Homo sapiens: one gene and its partners. The protein of the gene in region 1 interacts with the protein of each later gene in a biochemical or structural test. Each region holds a gene or a part of one and is shown in the gene's direction. Other genes may lie near its edges.

Region 1 (5,278 bases):
GCTAGAAATCTATGACAAGTTCAAGCAGAGTACACACAGCATATATATGTTCTTCAACACATCAGAGCTCCGAGAAGCGGTACCTGAACCCGTGTTGCTCTCCCGGGCAGAGCTGCGTCTGCTGAGGCTCAAGTTAAAAGTGGAGCAGCACGTGGAGCTGTACCAGGTGAGGACATGAGCCAGAAGGAAGGTCAGGGCATGGGCTGGAGAGGGTGAGCTGTGACCAAGGGGGTGGCTGTGGGTCGGCTGGTTACAAGGTCCACCTAGATGGTCCCTGAAGGATAGAAGAACACAAACCATACAATCCTAGAACGCTTTTTTTTTTTTTTTGAGACAGTGTCTCACTCTGTTGCCAAGCTGGAGTGCAGTGGTATGACCTCAGCTCACTGCAATCTCCGCCTCCTGGGTTCCAGTGATTCTCCTGCCTCAGCCTCCCAAGTAGCTGGGATTACAGGTGTGCGCCACCACGCCCAGCTAATTTTTGTATTTTTGGTAGAGATGGGGTTTTACCATGTTGGCCAGGATGGTCTCGATCTCCTGACCTCGTGATCCACCTGCCTCGGTCTCCCAAAGTGCTCAGATTACAGGCGTGAGCCACTGCGCCTGGCCTCTTTTTTTTTTTTTTTTTTTTTTGAGATGGAGTCTTGCTCTGTCGCCCAGGCTGGAGTACAATGGGGTGATCTCGGCTCACTGCAACCTCCGCCTCCTGGGTTCAAGTGATTCTCCTGCCTCAGCCACCCGAGTAGCTGGGATTACAGGCATGTGCCAACACGCTGGGCTAATTTTTGTATTTTTAGTAGAGACAGAGTTTTATCATGTTGGCCAGGCTTGTCTCAAACTCCTGCCCTCAAGTGATTCTCCTACCTGAGCCTCCCAGAGTGCTGGGATTACAGGTGTGAGCCACTGCACCCGGAACCTAGAGCACTTTTAAATGTTCAGACTCTTTGCATCCTAGGATGTTAAACACTTAGAAGGCTGGAATCTTAGGAGTTGGACTCTTTAAGGACACAGGATTCTTGAAAGTTGGAATCTCTGAAAAGGTTGGGGGCTCTAGAATCATTCTGTCCAATATGACAGCCACTAGTCACATTTAGCTTGATTAAAATTTAAATTGTTTAAAATTAAATTAAAAATTTAGGGCCAGGCATAGTGGCTCACACCTCTAATCCCAGAACTTTGGGAAGCCGAGGCAGGCAGATTGCTTGAGCCCAGGAGTCCGAGACCAGTCTGGGCAACATGTTGAAACTTCGTCTCTACAAAAAATACTAAAATTAGCCTGTTATGGTGATGCGTGCCTCTAGTCCCAGCTACTCAGTAGTCTGAGGTGGGAGGATTGATTGAGCCCAGGAGGTCGAGGCTGTAGTGAACTGTGATTGCACCACTGCATTCCAGCCTGGGTGATGGAGCGAGACCGTCTCAAAAATATATATATATAGGCCAGGCGTGGTGGCTCATGCCTGCAATCCCAGCACTTTGGGAGGCCAGGGTGGGTGGATCACTTGAGGTCAGGAGTTCAAGACCAGCCTGGCCAACATGACGAAACTCCATCTCTACTAAAAATACAAAAATTAGCCAGGTGTGGTGGCAGGCACCTGTAATCCCAGCTACTTGGGAGGCTGAGGTGGGAGAATCGCTTGACCCCAGGAGGTGGAGACTGCAGTGAGCGGAGATCATACCACTGCACTCCAGCCTGGGCAACAGAGCGAGACTCTGTCTCAAAAAAATAAAAATGAAAAAGAAATCCTCATTCTCACTGGCCATATTTCTAGTACTCTATAGTCACATGTGGTTAGCAGCTACTATTTTGGATGTTGCAGATAAAGCACATTTCCAGAAAGTTCTTTAGGACAGCACTGCTCTAGAAGATAGGGAGCTTCCAAGAGGACTGGGGCATCTGGAAGGGCTGGAGGCTCTAGCAGTTTCTATGAGCTAGAATCCATATCAGAGGGAATGTTAACTCATAGGATGGTAGATTTCAGACTTTCACAGTGAGAGAACTTTGTCCTATGTTAGCTTGGCTTCTTGGAGTCTGGGGAATTCAGCTTTATTCTGCAGTCCCTGGAGTGGACTATCCAGCCCCAGAAAATTCTTCTTTTTTTTGTGTGTGTGTGTGATGGAGTTTTGCTCCTGTTGCCCAGGCTGGAGTGCAATGGCACCATCTTGGCTCACCACAACCTTTGCTTCCTGGGTTCAAGCGATTCTCCTGCCTCAGCCACCCGAGCAGCTGGGATTACAGGCATGCACCACCACACCTAGCTAATTTTGTATTTTTAGTAGAGACGGTGTTTCTCCATATTGGTCAGGCTGGTCTCGAACTTCTGACCTCTGGTGATCCACCCTCCTCGGCCTCCCAAAGTGCTGGGATTACAAGCGTGAGCGACTGTGCCTGGCCCAGAAAATTATTCTACACAGATGTTGGGTACCTGCAGCATCTAGGTGCGGCATGGCAGACTCTTGGGTTTATAGAACATTAGTCTTCTAAAGCTTCTCAGGCTCTAGAAGTGGAAATCTTGGGATATTATCAAACATTTGAATCACAAAATGACTTTTTTTTTTTTTGAGACAGAGTCTCACTCTGTCACCCTGGCTAGAGTGCAGTGGTGCAATCTCGGCTCACTGCAACCTCTGTGTCTTGGGTTCAAGTGATTCTCCTGCCTCAGCCTCCTGAGTAGCTGGGATTACAGGCGTGTGCCACCACGCCTGGCTAATTTTTGTATTTTTAGTAGAGACGAGGTTTCACTTTGTTGGCCAGGCTGGTCTTGAACTCCTGACCTCAGGAGATCCACCCGCCTTGGCCTCCCAAAGTGCTGGGATAACAGGCGTGAGCCACCGTGCCCAGCCGGAATCATTAGAAATGACTTCTAAGTTACTGAGAATTCAGGGTGTCAAATTTGCAGAACCGTATGCTCAGTAAACCCCAGAATGTTTGCAGCAGAATTTTATTTTATTTATTATTATTATTTTGAGACGAAGTCTCGTCCTGTCGCCCAGGCTGGAGTGCAGTGGCGTGATCTTGGCTCACTGCAGTCTGTGTCTCCCGGGCTCAAGCAATTCTCCTGCCTCAGCCTCCCAAATAGTGGCGACTACAGGCGTGTGCCACCATGCCTGGCTAATTTTTGTATTTTTAGTAGAGATGGGGTTTCACTATGTTGGCCAGGCTGGTCTTGAACTCCTGACCTCAAGTGATCCACCCACCTTGGGCTCCCAAAGTGCTGGGATTACAGGCGTGAGCCACTGCGCCCGGCCCAGAATGTTAGCAGCAGAATTTTAGCATTGTGGGCTGTCCACGCTGAGTGGGGCTTAGCATTTCACCAATGAGGAAACAGGCCTCGAGAAGGCAAGAAAACACCTTCGGCTGAGCTGTGTGAAGGTGACTTGACCGCAGCCTGAGCTTTTTCTCCACCCCTCCTCTCATGGGTACTGTTGGGGAGGATGGGTGCCACAGGACCACACAGGTGGCTGTCTGAGAGGGTAGTGCCTGGGAACTTTCTGGAAGCCTGTTTGGGGAAGCAGATGGGGTGAAGGATTCAGTTAGTGTATGTGGGGTCGTGACACCATCTACCCACTGTCTCTCTCCTGCCTTCATCATCCTCTAGAAATACAGCAACAATTCCTGGCGATACCTCAGCAACCGGCTGCTGGCACCCAGCGACTCGCCAGAGTGGTTATCTTTTGATGTCACCGGAGTTGTGCGGCAGTGGTTGAGCCGTGGAGGTGAGGATTACTTGTGTGTCCCACCCCTGTTTCTCCCTGGGGTCCACCCCATTGTTTGTCCTGGGGTCACTTTGCCTAGGACCCCTCTCCGCCCCATACTGGTGTGAAAGTGCTGAGACCTGGCTCCCCTCTGTGGCATGGAAACCTGAGTGATTGGCTAATCTGTTTCCTGAGCACCTCTCTGCCCTGCCCTGTGATGGGTGATGCCAAGGACACAGCAATGACCAAAACAGCCCCATCCTTGCCCTCACAGAGCTCATATAGTCCATTGGCTAGGTAGCTGGGGAACAGACCTGTAAGGCAGTGATGACCCAGAGTGGGTGGGACTGGGATGGGGAGCCCAAAGGAGGTACCTGACCCAGCCCAGAATCAGGGAGGGCTTCCTGGAGGAGGGGCACCATAGCTGATGTTGAAGGGATGAGTAGAATGGTCAGGAAAAGGAGAGGTGTAAGAGTATTCTGGGGCTGGGCATGGTGGCTTATGCCTATAATCCCAGCACTTTTGAAGGCCAAGGAGGATGGATCACTGGAGCTCAGGAGTTTTGAGAGCAGCCTGGGCAACATGGCGAAACCCGGTCTCTACACAAAAATACAAAAATTAGCCATGCATGCTGTTACGTGCCTGTAGTTCCAGCTGCTTGGGAGACTGAGGTGGGAGAATCACCTGAGCCTGGGAGGTCGAGGCTGCAGTGAGTCATAATCACACTACTGCAATCCAGCCTACATGAAAGAGTGAGATCCCATCTCAAAAAAAAAAAAAAAAAAAAGATTCCAGGCAAAGGGAACAGCCTGTGCAAAGGCCTGGAGGCCAGGGAGAGCCTAACTAACTCATTTGATCTGTCCAGGAGATGATTGTCTCTGTCTGGTTTCTGGCAGGGCCCATGGTGCCCCTATCTCTCTCCCTCACCTCCCTCTCATTTATGCTTTTATTCAATAATTGCCCACAGGTTCCTGCTGTGTGCCTGGCCATGTGCTGGGTGGTGTGGGGGACATAGTGATAACCAAGACAGCCCTCAGTTCTGCCCTCATGGGGCCCACAGTCACTTCTGGACACCTAAGAGATCTTGTCAAGGCCCCACCAGGCAGGAATGACCTAGAATGATCAAGAATGGGATGGGGAGGCACCAGCAGGGAGGACAAGGCTGGGACAGGGAGGCATGCAGGATGGGGGAACGCCCTAAGTGCTGTTGGGAGCCCAGAGAAGGCACCTGGACCCATCTGGGGAGTCTAGGAGGGCTTGCTGGGTGAGGGTGATTGTGTGGAGACTCACAGGATAAATAGTAGTTTGGCCACATGAAAAAAAAGGGATTAGGGGGCCTGGCATGGTGGCTCACGCCTGTAATCCCAGCACTTTGAGAGGCCGAGGTGGGTGGATCACCTGAGATCGGGAGTTCGAGACCAGCCTGACCAACATGGAGAAACCCCGTCTCTACTAAAAATACATAATTAGCTCGGCGTGGTGATGCATGCCTGTAATCCCAGCTACTCGGGAGGCTGAGGCAGGAGAATTGCTTGAACCCAGGAGGTGGAGGTTTCAGTGAGCCAAGATCGTGCCATTGCACTCC
Region 2 (4,388 bases), 1.9 Mb from region 1:
ACGCATATGGTCCTTGAGGGCCAGACTTCCATCATCTGTTCATGTTCACCCTTTCCACCAGTCAGTTCTGCATTTGCAAACATCCACATGTATTTCTAGAAAGATCCACATGGTCCTCACCTGCCCTCTACAGGGGGAAGGGAGCATCATGGACCCAGAACAGGGAACATGGTCTTGGTCGAAAGCTATCAGCTACTGCCTGGCCCCTTCACTCTTTGTAGGTCATTCCTTGGACTCTGCTCTATCGTTAGAGGTCACTGGCTCAAGTCAGTCACTATGAGACACCTGGGAAAACTGCAAACTGCCCCACCTTGTGGCTCCACTGCCTGATGTCTTAACTGACCTCCCGGCTTGACTCTGGTCTCCCCTGTGTTATTTCTGCTGAAGTACCCAGTCCCAGACCAGGCTTTCCAATACCCAAAGGGTTTAAGGACAATGGGAAGTTCCATCACCCATCTCTAGGATGTCCTTGGCAAGGGAAGCTGCAGAGAAAACATACCTCAGGGGGCAAAGTAAGACTGAAACTAAGAGGATTCCAGCACTGCATGCTCCAAGTGAGGACCACAAGTTGGGCCAGTCAGGCAGTTGGAGACGGAGGGACTCAAAGAGGCATCAGGGGCTGTGACTGCTGGTCCTGTGTCTTTCCATGACCCAATGCTGCTGCTCAATTCACACTTAAGAAAGTCTGTGCTTCTCCCACATAAAGCAGGCAGCCTCACAATCTCTGAGCTCTCAGATTGCCATGCATCTGTCTTGTAACACACACACCTGCCATGGGCTTTTAAGGACTGGGTTGGGCTGAGAGGTGGGAAATGCCAACTCTGACTGAAAAATGCCTTTGGAGGAATCAAAGGTGCCACACAGGGCAATCTTCTCTCTGTTTTCTGCACAGTGGAGACTCCCAAGCCCTACATCTCCAGCAGCAACTTAAACCCCAGGGAGGCCATGGAGGCTGTGCGCTTAATCTGTGATCCTGAGACTCTGGACGCAAGCTACCTATGGTGGATGAATGGTCAGAGCCTCCCTGTGACTCACAGGTTGCAGCTGTCCAAAACCAACAGGACCCTCTATCTATTTGGTGTCACAAAGTATATTGCAGGACCCTATGAATGTGAAATACGGAACCCAGTGAGTGCCAGTCGCAGTGACCCAGTCACCCTGAATCTCCTCCGTGAGTATCTTCTGTTCCTCTGTGAGCCAGGCTGCCATCCCAAATACACATGGCCAGAGGCCAGGCCTCTCAGTCCCTCTCAGGTCCAAGTACAGAGACCTTTACCCCTAGACATCAAAGCTGGCCATGACTTTCTGCCCCAAGCAAACCAGAGTAGGCCTAGGCTTGATCAACAATGGGAGAAAAGAGGCTGCTGTGTCATGGGAGACTCTGGGTCCACAGCTTGTGATGGGAGAAACAGGTGAATGTCTCAGGCTCCAGATCAGTGAACACAGCAGGGATTTGGCTGGGACTTCAGTGTTGCGACTTGGCTCACAGGGTCACTGTGGCCCTTCCACAGACCAGGATTTTCCCTTCCCTCTGACAATATCGCTTGTGACATTATTCTCTTTGCTCCACATGGCCTGGATGCACCCACCATTTCTTCCTCATACATCTATTACCATACAGGGGAATTCCCCAATCTCTCCTGCCTCACAGACTCTCACCCACTGGCAGAGCATTCTTGGCTGATTGATGGGAAGTTCCAGCACTCAGCACAAGTGTTCTTTATCCCCCAAATCACTAAAACATATAGAGGGTCTATGTCTGTTTCATCCATAACTCAGCCACTGGTGGAACAAATCTCATAATCAAGAGGATCATAGTCCCTGGTAAGTGGGTCCCTGGAGCACTGGCACTATGTTTTCCAGTGAAGTCTATCTAGCTGTCAGGGAACAGCCACCTGCCCTCTGCAAAGGGAGAGGGAAAATAAAAAACCCTGGATAGGGAATATGTTTCTGCTCCAAAACCACCAGCTTTTGCCTGTCCCTTCACTCTTTCTAGATCATTCTTTAGACTATACACTAACAATGAACAATCTGAAAGGAAGTTAAGGAAAGGATTTCAATTCACATTAACATCAAAAGGAATAAAATATTTTGGAATAAGTTTAACCAAAAAGGTCAAATGATTATACCCTGAAAACTACAAAACATTGCTGAAAGAAATTAAAGATGATATCAATATATGGAAAGACATTTCATTTTCATGGATTGGAAGAATCAATATTGTTAGAAAGACAATACTACCCAATTGAGTTGCAGATTCAATGCAACCCCTACCAGAATCCCAGTAACATTTTTTGCAGAATTAGAAAACTCTGTCCTAAATCTGACCTGACAGGATCTTATTAATGACTGCCACAACACAAACACTGAGAAAAAGATGCAACCAGAAAAGGTGGAAAGTTCTGATGACAAAGAAAATAGCAATCAGCCTTTCTCACATCCCAAAGCTTTAAAAAATATATGAGTGCAGCATGGCCAGTATGGAATTGACCAAAAACTAATCATCAAGCTAGAAAAGTGGTGAGAGAAAAAAAAAGGGCAAGAATATCTTTGGCTTATCACCTCCCACTTTTGCCTACTAATCTGATGCTGAAAAGAAATGCTCACTGAAGCATTTTAGATTTTGAATCTTTCAGATTTGGGATGCTAAACCAGTAAGTATATGACAAATATTTCAGAATAAAAAAATGTCAGAAATCCAAAACACTTTTTGTCCTAAGACTTATGCATAAGAAATACTCAATCTGTGTGAACTATAGGCATCAAGCTCTACAGCAGATCTCTAGAACCTCCCCACCTTGCATAACTGAAACTGCACACCCATGAACAATTTCTGATTCTCCCCACTCCCAGCTCCTGGCAACCAGCAGTCTCTTCTCATATTCACTCTGGAATCCACTTACATGAGGTCCCTAGAGTAGTCGAACCCAGGGGATCAGAGAGTAGAATGTCCAATGAAAGAAAATATTTGCAAAACTTCTCTCCAAGTTTGTCTCATATCCATCAAACACACATGGTCCATGAGGACCAGATTTCCAGCAGTTCATTCCCACACTTTCCACCAGTCAGTTCTGCATTTGCAAATGTCCACATGTATTTCTGGAAAGATCCACATGGTCCTCCTCTGCCCTCTGCAGAAGGAGAGGAAACTTAAAGAACCCAGGACAGAGAACATGGTTCTGCTCCAAAGCCACCAGCTCTTGCCTGTCGCCTTCACTCTTTCTAGATCATTCCTTGCACTCTGCTCTATGTTTAGAGGTCACTGGTTCAAGTAAGTCATCATGAAACACCTGCAAAAAACTGCCCCACCTTGAGCCTCCACTGCCTGATGACTGAACTGACCTCCAGGCTTGACTCTGGTCTCCTCTGTGTTATTTCTGCTGAAACATCCAGTCCCAGGCCAGGCTGCTAAGTATCTTCAGGGTCTCAGGACAATGGGAAGTCCCATTATTACTCATCTCTAGAACATCCTTAGAAATGGAAGCTGCAGAGAAATCACATATAGGGGGGCAAAGTAGGATGGAATTTGGAAGGGGCCCAGCAGTTGCACATTCCAGGTAAGGAACCCAAGGTGAGCCAGCCAGTCAACTGATTAGGGAGGGACTGGGAGGGGTACCAGGGGCTGTGACTCCCACTGATGTGTCTGTCCATGACCCAACACTGCTGCTCAATTGACACTTGAGAAAGTCTGTGCTTCCCTAAGACAGAGCAGGCGGCCTCACAGTCTTTGAGCCCTTAGATCATCATGCATCTGTCTTGTGACACACGCACCAGCTATTGGCTTTCAAGGACTCGGGTGGGCTGAGAGGTGGGAGATGCCAACTCTGATTGAAGTATGCCTGTGGAGGAATCAAAGGTGCCACACAGGACAATCTTCTCTCTGTTATCCACACAGCGAAGCTGCCCATCCCCTACATCACCATCAACAACTTAAACCCCAGGGAGAATAAGGATGTCTTAGCCTTCACCTGTGAACCTAAGAGTGAGAACTACACCTACATTTGGTGGCTAAACGGTCAGAGCCTCCCCGTCAGTCCCGGGGTAAAGCGACCCATTGAAAACAGGATACTCATTCTACCCAGTGTCACGAGAAATGAAACAGGACCCTATCAATGTGAAATACGGGACCGATATGGTGGCCTCCGCAGTAACCCAGTCATCCTAAATGTCCTCTGTGAGTATCTTTTGTTCCTCTGTGGGCCAGGACACCAGCTTAAGTCCAAACGACCAGATGCCAGGCCTCTCAGTCTCTCTCCGGTCCAAGTATAGACACCTTTACTTCTAGACATCCGAGGTGGCCATGACTCCCTGCCCTGGGAAAACCTGGGTAGGCACAGCCTTAACCAAGAATATAAGGGGAGTGGATGCTCTTGTCATGGGAGACTTGG
Region 3 (4,388 bases), on another chromosome or scaffold:
ACGAGCCTTACCCCTATGGGGTGGATGAAGGGCCAGCCTACACCTACGGCTCTCCATCCCCTCCAGATCCCCGCGACTGCCCCCAGGAGTGCGACTGCCCACCCAACTTCCCCACGGCCATGTACTGTGACAATCGCAACCTCAAGTACCTGCCCTTCGTTCCCTCCCGCATGAAGTATGTGTACTTCCAGAACAACCAGATCACCTCCATCCAGGAAGGCGTCTTTGACAATGCCACAGGGCTGCTCTGGATTGCTCTCCACGGCAACCAGATCACCAGTGATAAGGTGGGCAGGAAGGTCTTCTCCAAGCTGAGGCACCTGGAGAGGCTGTACCTGGACCACAACAACCTGACCCGGATGCCCGGTCCCCTGCCTCGATCCCTGAGAGAGCTCCATCTCGACCACAACCAGATCTCACGGGTCCCCAACAATGCTCTGGAGGGGCTGGAGAACCTCACGGCCTTGTACCTCCAACACAATGAGATCCAGGAAGTGGGCAGTTCCATGAGGGGCCTCCGGTCACTGATCTTGCTGGACCTGAGTTATAACCACCTTCGGAAGGTGCCTGATGGGCTGCCCTCAGCTCTTGAGCAGCTGTACATGGAGCACAACAATGTCTACACCGTCCCCGATAGCTACTTCCGGGGGGCGCCCAAGCTGCTGTATGTGCGGCTGTCCCACAACAGTCTAACCAACAATGGCCTGGCCTCCAACACCTTCAATTCCAGCAGCCTCCTTGAGCTAGACCTCTCCTACAACCAGCTGCAGAAGATCCCCCCAGTCAACACCAACCTGGAGAACCTCTACCTCCAAGGCAATAGGATCAATGGTGAGACCTTGGCAAAGGGAGGCGGGGACTGGCTGTCTATTTCACTTGAAAGACACTATTCTGAGTGCTAGTGGCAAAACAAAAGAAATAGAAATAGGGGAACCAGACAGCACAAATGAAGCAACCTGACAACCAAGCCATACCCCTGTACAAAAGAGAATACACTTATACTAAATAGCAGTGCTAAGACAATTCAGTGGGGAGTGGGTTGGTACAGAAGAAGACTTTCCAGGAGAGGTAAGTTTCATTCCAGGTCTTGAGAGATAAGTGGGCATGGGTTGGGGGTATGCAGGATGGAGACATTCTGGGACAGAGGCTTGCCACAAAGGAGCCAGTCATTTTCACAGGTCACCTGTCGATGTAGGGGACAGCTGGGAAATGTCACGTGTCTGAGATGAAGGGGTCATGTGTCAGGGAGCAGTAAGAGATGAGTTCGGAGAAGTTTAGGAGGGAATACTTCAAAGGGAGGGAGATTTAAGTTTAGCTTCTAAAGTCTGTTTCAGGAGAATGGTGGGTTGAAGCCCTGCACTTACTCACTGTCCCAGAAGAGGATGAGCTCTCTTTTTCCACTTGAACTACTCTTGCGTCTACAGCCTGGTCTTGTGTTTTGGTGTTTATTCTCAGAGCTGAATGCGGCACTTGTTCTGGTCAGTTCTTCCTGGAGTACAAGGACCCCCTGGTGGCAGGGCAGATATCCTTCCTAGGGTAACATGAGCCTGACTACCACCAAGCCTAGGACACTGGGCTTCCTGTTTCATAAGCACTTCCTTGCAATGCCCAAAGGAAAAAAAAAAAGGCTGCCTCCCTGACTCTAAGAAATATTCATTTCAGATGGAATTATCTAGCTGATTTTCAGCTCCCTTTAGTCTTAGGATCTAGTATTCAGAACATGCTTACATTACCCCAGGGCTTCTGATGTCTTAATCCCAGCTGGAAGGTACTGAGCCAGCACTTGACCTCCCTTCCTGTCAGCAAAGTCCTCTTCCATCTGGAGAAGGGAGGACTCATTAACGACCACTGGCAAAGGGCTTTGAAGTGGAGCCTGCTGAGATAGAACCGCACCATCAAAGCGCTGAGAAGAACAGAGTCGTCACCCTCTCCCTCTCATTCCTTTCTCCCCTGTGCTCAGGGAACAGATCAGTCATTGAGCAAGATGTTAACAAGCTGGGCAGCCCTCTGAGTGAGAGAGGCACCAGCCCCAGAGGGCAATTTGGGAGTTGACAGTCGGGTGGGCAAGGCAAAGAGGCATCTGTCTGGCACCTTTAGTTTGAAGTGCCTGACACCATCATGTACAGCCTAAACTCTTTTTTATTAAAATCTCTCTTTCTTTGGGGTCTTTTTATTCCCAAGGTGGGGATTGAGGGGTCCTCTAAGACGTCTTTTTTTTTTTTTTTGAGACAGAGTCTCGCTCTGTCACCCAGGCCGGAGTGCAGTGGCATGATCTCAGCTCACTGCAAACTCCGCCTCCTGGGTTCACGCCATTCTCCTGCCTCAGCCTCTTGAGTAGCTGCGACTACAGGCGCCTGCCACCACGCTCGGCCAACTTTTTATATTTTTAGTAGAGACGGGGTTTCACCGTGTTAGCCAGGACGGTCTTGATCTCCTGACCTCGTGATCTGCCTGCCTCGGCCTCCCAAAGTGCTGGGATTACAGGCATGAGCCACCGCGCCCAGCCAAGACATCTTGAAGATGTTGCAAGCTGCAGACGTTTGACATTTCCTTGTGGCTGTCTATCATCACACCAGCAGTTACCACTACTTACCTGCCACACACTCTGAATCCAGGAGCAGTCACATCAGAAATGTCACACGTATGCTGTGCTTCATCCAAGTTTGACCCTGAAACTGTGACAGCAAAGAACAGCTGTCATGGGAAAGAATCTATTAGCACCTACCCATACAATCAGAGAAAGTTGGGATGGAAAAGGCTTCATCACAACCTTTTATCATCGTTCTGCCTTCATGCAGAACCACATCTGCCACTCAAATGGGAGGTGGACCACCTCTTCCAGACGCTTGTCAGAAAATAAAATTAGTGCAGTTTCCTAAGGTCCCGCAAACAAATTCTCTGTTCAAACAACCCCCAAATTTTCGGTGTCTACTCCCAAATCAATTCTTGTGCAATTTAAGTCCAAGCCCCGTGACTAGGTATCACTTAGTCTCTCTCAGCCTTCTTTTTAGACAAAATAATGCTTTATTTTCCTTAAAGTAGTGAATTAATATATGTAAAGTGCTTTGTCTAGGGCCTGGCATAGAATTTAAAAACCAATGATAGCTATTATTATTAGCCTTTCTTCTCATTGCCACTTTAAAGTTGACAGGCAGTTTTTGTTGTTGTTTTGGGGAAAAAGAGACACAGAGAAGGTAAAGCCATCTCTCAAAGTCCTCCAGATGATGTAGATTAGAATCCTGACCTAAAGGACCTAGAGCCAGGCATCTCCGACTGAGAATGGTGAGGAATATCTCTCTGATGCAGACCACTAGCAGGAAAACAGCTCCCCAAGCTCAGCCCCCTCTCCTACAGCAAACGTGAGGGACATCTCCCTGCAAACCAGTCAGGGACTTGGGGATGGGGGGTGTTGGAGGTGGGATTGAAACAAGCTTCTGAGAGAGGAGCTTAAAGAAGAACAGGAGCTCAGGGGCGCACAGGGGAATCAGATGTGGTCCTCTCCTCGCCACTTCCCTCTTCCATCAGTATCTCCCTCAGTTTTTCCAGCCTGGCAAGAACACAGCTCAGAATGTTATTCAGAAGCTTTGGGATTCAGTGGAGCAGGGCGGGTACACCAGTAGGAATTTGGAAAGACTTATGTCAGTATTTAATTTGGGCTAGAAAAATGTCCTCCAGTGCCTCCACGCAGAAGCCTGTCCTATTCATGGGCTTGGGGAAGACGGGGGGGTGCTCACAGTACCCAGTATGTGGCTAGAGTCCATATACACTGTGTGTCTAGCTCCCCACAGGTATGTCCCACATTTACCTATCCACAGCTGGGATCTGGAATTTTAGCAGGCAGTCTGAGGGCTCCAGGCTGGGAAAGAATCTATCACGGAGCCTGCAGCTCCATCCTAAGTAGGGCTGGAAATGATACTTAAGCTGAGCCACTTTGCTTCTTCTCCTCACCCCACTGCTCTGCTTGTACACAGATAACATAGACCCAGCCCCGGTCTAGGCTCTGCCCCCAACCTGCTCACTCAGAGGCCACTTAATCTAGTCCTTGGGACCAGAAAGGAAACATCCAAAAGTATTCCAGAAATTCTACCCCACCAGGAGTGTTTTCCAAAGACGAGTATTTCCCAGTTTCCGCTACTTTTCTCAGTGTCTAATTTTCTTTAGGCCTAGATTTTCTGTGTTATGCCTGCAATACAAGTTAATTTGCTGCAACCTCACCTCATCTTATCTTGGTCAGTGCTTAACAGAGACTGAAAACCATTGAAAATGCTAATTTAAAAACACTTTTTTCATCAGCCTCTTTAAGCTCTCCATGCTGTCTTTCTTGGAACTGTCTTCTTCATACCTATAACCTCTCCCAAGGGGAGCCCTCATGGTCACACCTAAGAATA
Region 4 (4,388 bases), on another chromosome or scaffold:
GAGGGGGCTCCTGTCCTGGCCCTGACCTGACTCAATCGGTGTCTGTCTTGTTCCCAGGGTCCTCAAGGCCCCAGAGGTGACAAAGGAGAGGCTGGAGAGCCTGGCGAGAGAGGCCTGAAGGGACACCGTGGCTTCACTGGTCTGCAGGGTCTGCCCGGCCCTCCTGTGAGTGTCACTGCCTGCGTGGGACTTCCCGAGGCCTCCTGCCACACAGAGCCCACTTGAGCTCCCTGTGCTGCCAGGACAGCTTGGGATCACCCTAAGCAGTTTCTAGGATTTCCTCAGGGCTGGAGGGAGGAGGAAGTGGAAAGGGAATGGGGCTGGGACATAAAGCTGTTCCCCCAGCTCCCAGAATATAGATAGATATGTCTGTGCTGACCGTGGCCTTTTGCCTCTTCCTTCTACACAGGGTCCTTCTGGAGACCAAGGTGCTTCTGGTCCTGCTGGTCCTTCTGGCCCTAGAGTAAGTGACATGGAGTTGGAAGATGGAGGGGGCCCTTCAGAGAGTGTGGGCCTGTGTTCCCATGGGGAGGGAAATGCTGCTGCTTCTGGGGAAGCTGTGGGCTCAGGGGTCCTCACTCAGTAATGGGGGCAGGACTGGCTCATGTGCCTATGGCCAGAAAAGCGCCTGAGGCCACAATGGCTGTAAGACAAACATGAATCAGCCTCTCGCTGTCAGACAGAACAGCATTTTACAAAGAGGAGCTTAGGAGGGTAGGCAAGCCATGGAGCTATCCTGCTGGTTCTTGGCCAAATAGAGACCAACTTAGGGTTCCATGACTGAGCATGTGAAGAACTGGGGGCGGAGTGGCTGGTGCTATCAGGACAGCCACCTACCCAGCCCCAGCGACTCCCCAGCCTTCCCTGTGGTGACCACTCTTTCCTCACGACCTCTCTCTCTTGCAGGGTCCTCCTGGCCCCGTCGGTCCCTCTGGCAAAGATGGTGCTAATGGAATCCCTGGCCCCATTGGGCCTCCTGGTCCCCGTGGACGATCAGGCGAAACCGGCCCTGCTGTAAGTGTCCTGACTCCTTCCCTGCTGTCGAGGTGTCCCTACCATCCGGGAGGCTTGAGCTCTTTTTTGCTCAGGGCCTCTTTTAGGGCATCAGCCTGCAGCTAACAGTGATGGCATCCTTTATCCTGAGGTCTCCTCAGAGGTCACAGGGCCCATGATCAGTGCTGGGAAACTGAAGAGAAGGGCTAAGGAAGAAATAGACATGGTGCTGTGGTTTCCTTGGTCCTCGCCTGCTACACCTCCGCCCCACCCATGGGGCTGGGAAGAGGGACACTCTAGTACATTCTAGCAAATGGGGATGGACATGGAGGGGCACTTTCACACAATCCTGGCTGATCTCTCTGTTTCCTGCTGCAGGGTCCTCCTGGAAATCCTGGACCCCCTGGTCCTCCAGGTCCCCCTGGCCCTGGCATCGACATGTCCGCCTTTGCTGGCTTAGGCCCGAGAGAGAAGGGCCCCGACCCCCTGCAGTACATGCGGGCCGACCAGGCAGCCGGTGGCCTGAGACAGCATGACGCCGAGGTGGATGCCACACTCAAGTCCCTCAACAACCAGATTGAGAGCATCCGCAGCCCCGAGGGCTCCCGCAAGAACCCTGCTCGCACCTGCAGAGACCTGAAACTCTGCCACCCTGAGTGGAAGAGTGGTAAGCTTGGAGAACAGGATCCCCTGCCCCGGGAAGCAGGGAGTCATCCCTTAGGCCTAGCAGCAAGGGAGGAGATGCCCCCTAGTACAGGGCAGAGCTGGGCCTGGAAGTTTCCGCCAGAGGGTTCCTCTCTTATTTCACAGCAGAGAAGCTGCAGCCCTGGCCCCTGTCCTGCCATGGCTACCTGGCCGAGGTGACCTCAGGGTGGACTCCATCCACCAGCTGGGCACTGCTTCTGCTCTCTTTGCATGTGTTCTTCCTTAGGGCTGGACTTAGCTCATGCAGATCTCCCTGCCCCTGCATCCTCCCAGGTCCCCCTCCTTTCAGGCCACATGTGAACCTCATCCCTTGTCCCTGTAGGCCTCTCTGTCTCTTTCAGTCAGGCCTGGGTCTCTCAAGCTTTTGTGTCTGTGCCTGTCTGAGCCCCCATGGGTGCTGCCTCTTCCCCCTGCAGGAGACTACTGGATTGACCCCAACCAAGGCTGCACCTTGGACGCCATGAAGGTTTTCTGCAACATGGAGACTGGCGAGACTTGCGTCTACCCCAATCCAGCAAACGTTCCCAAGAAGAACTGGTGGAGCAGCAAGAGCAAGGAGAAGAAACACATCTGGTTTGGAGAAACCATCAATGGTGGCTTCCATGTGAGTACCTGGGTGCCCTAGATGATGAGCAGAGATGGCTCCTCAAACTCTTTCTTTTCTTTCTCCCTGGAAGCTTTTAGCACCTTCCCCATATTTTCCTCCAGTTTTCTGTTGGGCTTGAGAGGAGGGAAAGAGGAGGAAAAGTATTTTTTCCCCACGTGGAGGTGGGAAAAGAGGTCCTCTGAGCTTGCTCCACTCCTGGAAGCAAAAATGTCCAACTAGCTCCCTGCTGCCCCAGTACCCTTGAGGTCCTTGAACCATGAACTCTTGGCAGCCCCTACAGCCCCTGGTCCCATTGAATGCCAGCTCCCAGGCCTCACACTGCCGCTCTCTGCCCCAACAGTTCAGCTATGGAGATGACAATCTGGCTCCCAACACTGCCAACGTCCAGATGACCTTCCTACGCCTGCTGTCCACGGAAGGCTCCCAGAACATCACCTACCACTGCAAGAACAGCATTGCCTATCTGGACGAAGCAGCTGGCAACCTCAAGAAGGCCCTGCTCATCCAGGGCTCCAATGACGTGGAGATCCGGGCAGAGGGCAATAGCAGGTTCACGTACACTGCCCTGAAGGATGGCTGCACGGTGAGTGGGGCTGCCAGAGAGAAGAGCTGCCTGTGCCCAAACCGCCTGGAGCAGGGCTGAGGGTTGGCCCGCGGCAGCTGTCAGGTCCTAAAGTGACAGGATCATCAGAGGCATGAGTTTGAGGGTCATGTAGAGAAGATAGGCTGAGTGACAGGTGAGAGAGAGGCACATATCATTCCATCTTCTCCATTCCCCTGGCTCAGGGGAACAAAACCCTACCTGGAACCCAGTGACTACTGTAGAAGTGTTCTCGCAATGTGTACAGGGTGAAGAAGCGGTCACAGGTTGGGAGCTCACTGTGGGGAGTGGGGAAGGAGGGGAAGGGCAGGGTGGAGAAGGGCCCTGCCGCTAAGGATAGGAGTTGAAGTGGAGAGGCCTTTGGCAAGCCAAGAAGAGGTCTCAGGAGCCCCCTCAGTGTGGTTCAACCTTGTGGGCTCTGATGCTCGCCAGTTTGTTCAGTTTTGGGCTTCTGGGCAGCTGGAACTGGGTAGCAAGGCATCTACTGAACAGAGCCTCCTCCTTTTTTCTCCCCTAGAAACATACCGGTAAGTGGGGCAAGACTGTTATCGAGTACCGGTCACAGAAGACCTCACGCCTCCCCATCATTGACATTGCACCCATGGACATAGGAGGGCCCGAGCAGGAATTCGGTGTGGACATAGGGCCGGTCTGCTTCTTGTAAAAACCTGAACCCAGAAACAACACAATCCGTTGCAAACCCAAAGGACCCAAGTACTTTCCAATCTCAGTCACTCTAGGACTCTGCACTGAATGGCTGACCTGACCTGATGTCCATTCATCCCACCCTCTCACAGTTCGGACTTTTCTCCCCTCTCTTTCTAAGAGACCTGAACTGGGCAGACTGCAAAATAAAATCTCGGTGTTCTATTTATTTATTGTCTTCCTGTAAGACCTTCGGGTCAAGGCAGAGGCAGGAAACTAACTGGTGTGAGTCAAATGCCCCCTGAGTGACTGCCCCCAGCCCAGGCCAGAAGACCTCCCTTCAGGTGCCGGGCGCAGGAACTGTGTGTGTCCTACACAATGGTGCTATTCTGTGTCAAACACCTCTGTATTTTTTAAAACATCAATTGATATTAAAAATGAAAAGATTATTGGAAAGTACATATTGACTTGTGGTTTGTTCTTTAGTTTGTTTTCCATTAATCCTCCGTTCTGTAGGCATGCCCAAATAGCAGTCCTAAGGACTTCTTCTGTTGATTTTTCAACCGAGAGTAAGGACACTGAAGCCACACCGCCAGGGTTAGCAGCCTCACACAAACATGAACTTGCCTCTCTGGTAAACCTTGGCACTATGTGGAACCCACTGTTGAACAGGACCAGAAACCAAAACTTGAGAAGGGAGGTATGCTAGAGGGAGGGCATTGCTCTTGAAGGTAAACACTGAACACAGCTCTATGACACCTTAGTGCCCTGCCAGCTTACGGTGTAAGACCACATGTGGGCTGCATCCTGCTGGATCGGAGACGTGGGAGATACTCC

The links. The genes of interacting proteins can lie anywhere in the genome.
Region 2: the proteins of TGFB1 (region 1) and PSG9 interact in a biophysical measurement, tested with the Homo sapiens proteins (one study listed by IntAct).
Region 3: the proteins of TGFB1 (region 1) and FMOD form a complex in vitro, tested with the Homo sapiens proteins (one study listed by BioGRID).
Region 4: the proteins of TGFB1 (region 1) and COL2A1 form a complex in vitro, tested with the Homo sapiens proteins (one study listed by BioGRID).

Annotation. Positions count from the first base shown.
Region 1 is NC_000019.10:41,343,183-41,348,460, reverse strand, and holds part of TGFB1 (transforming growth factor beta-1 proprotein preproprotein), read left to right. Parts: intron 1-5; coding exon 6-166; intron 167-3,596; coding exon 3,597-3,714; intron 3,715-5,278. UniProt on the Homo sapiens protein: Transforming growth factor beta-1 proprotein: Precursor of the Latency-associated peptide (LAP) and Transforming growth factor beta-1 (TGF-beta-1) chains, which constitute the regulatory and active subunit of TGF-beta-1, respectively.
Region 2 is NC_000019.10:43,258,643-43,263,030, reverse strand, and holds part of PSG9 (pregnancy-specific beta-1-glycoprotein 9 isoform 1 precursor), read left to right. Parts: intron 1-892; coding exon 893-1,171; intron 1,172-3,895; coding exon 3,896-4,174; intron 4,175-4,388. UniProt on the Homo sapiens protein: Binds to the small latent transforming growth factor-beta complex, consisting of the N-terminal TGFB1 latency-associated peptide (LAP) and the mature form of TGFB1, thereby leading to the activation of TGFB1.
Region 3 is NC_000001.11:203,343,735-203,348,122, reverse strand, and holds part of FMOD (fibromodulin precursor), read left to right. Parts: coding exon 1-831; intron 832-4,388. UniProt on the Homo sapiens protein: Affects the rate of fibrils formation. May have a primary role in collagen fibrillogenesis.
Region 4 is NC_000012.12:47,972,589-47,976,976, reverse strand, and holds the end of COL2A1 (collagen alpha-1(II) chain isoform 1 precursor), read left to right. Parts: intron 1-57; coding exon 58-165; intron 166-409; coding exon 410-463; intron 464-906; coding exon 907-1,014; intron 1,015-1,371; coding exon 1,372-1,660; intron 1,661-2,114; coding exon 2,115-2,302; intron 2,303-2,645; coding exon 2,646-2,888; intron 2,889-3,423; coding exon 3,424-3,570; 3' UTR 3,571-4,010; downstream 4,011-4,388. UniProt on the Homo sapiens protein: Type II collagen is specific for cartilaginous tissues. It is essential for the normal embryonic development of the skeleton, for linear growth and for the ability of cartilage to resist compressive forces.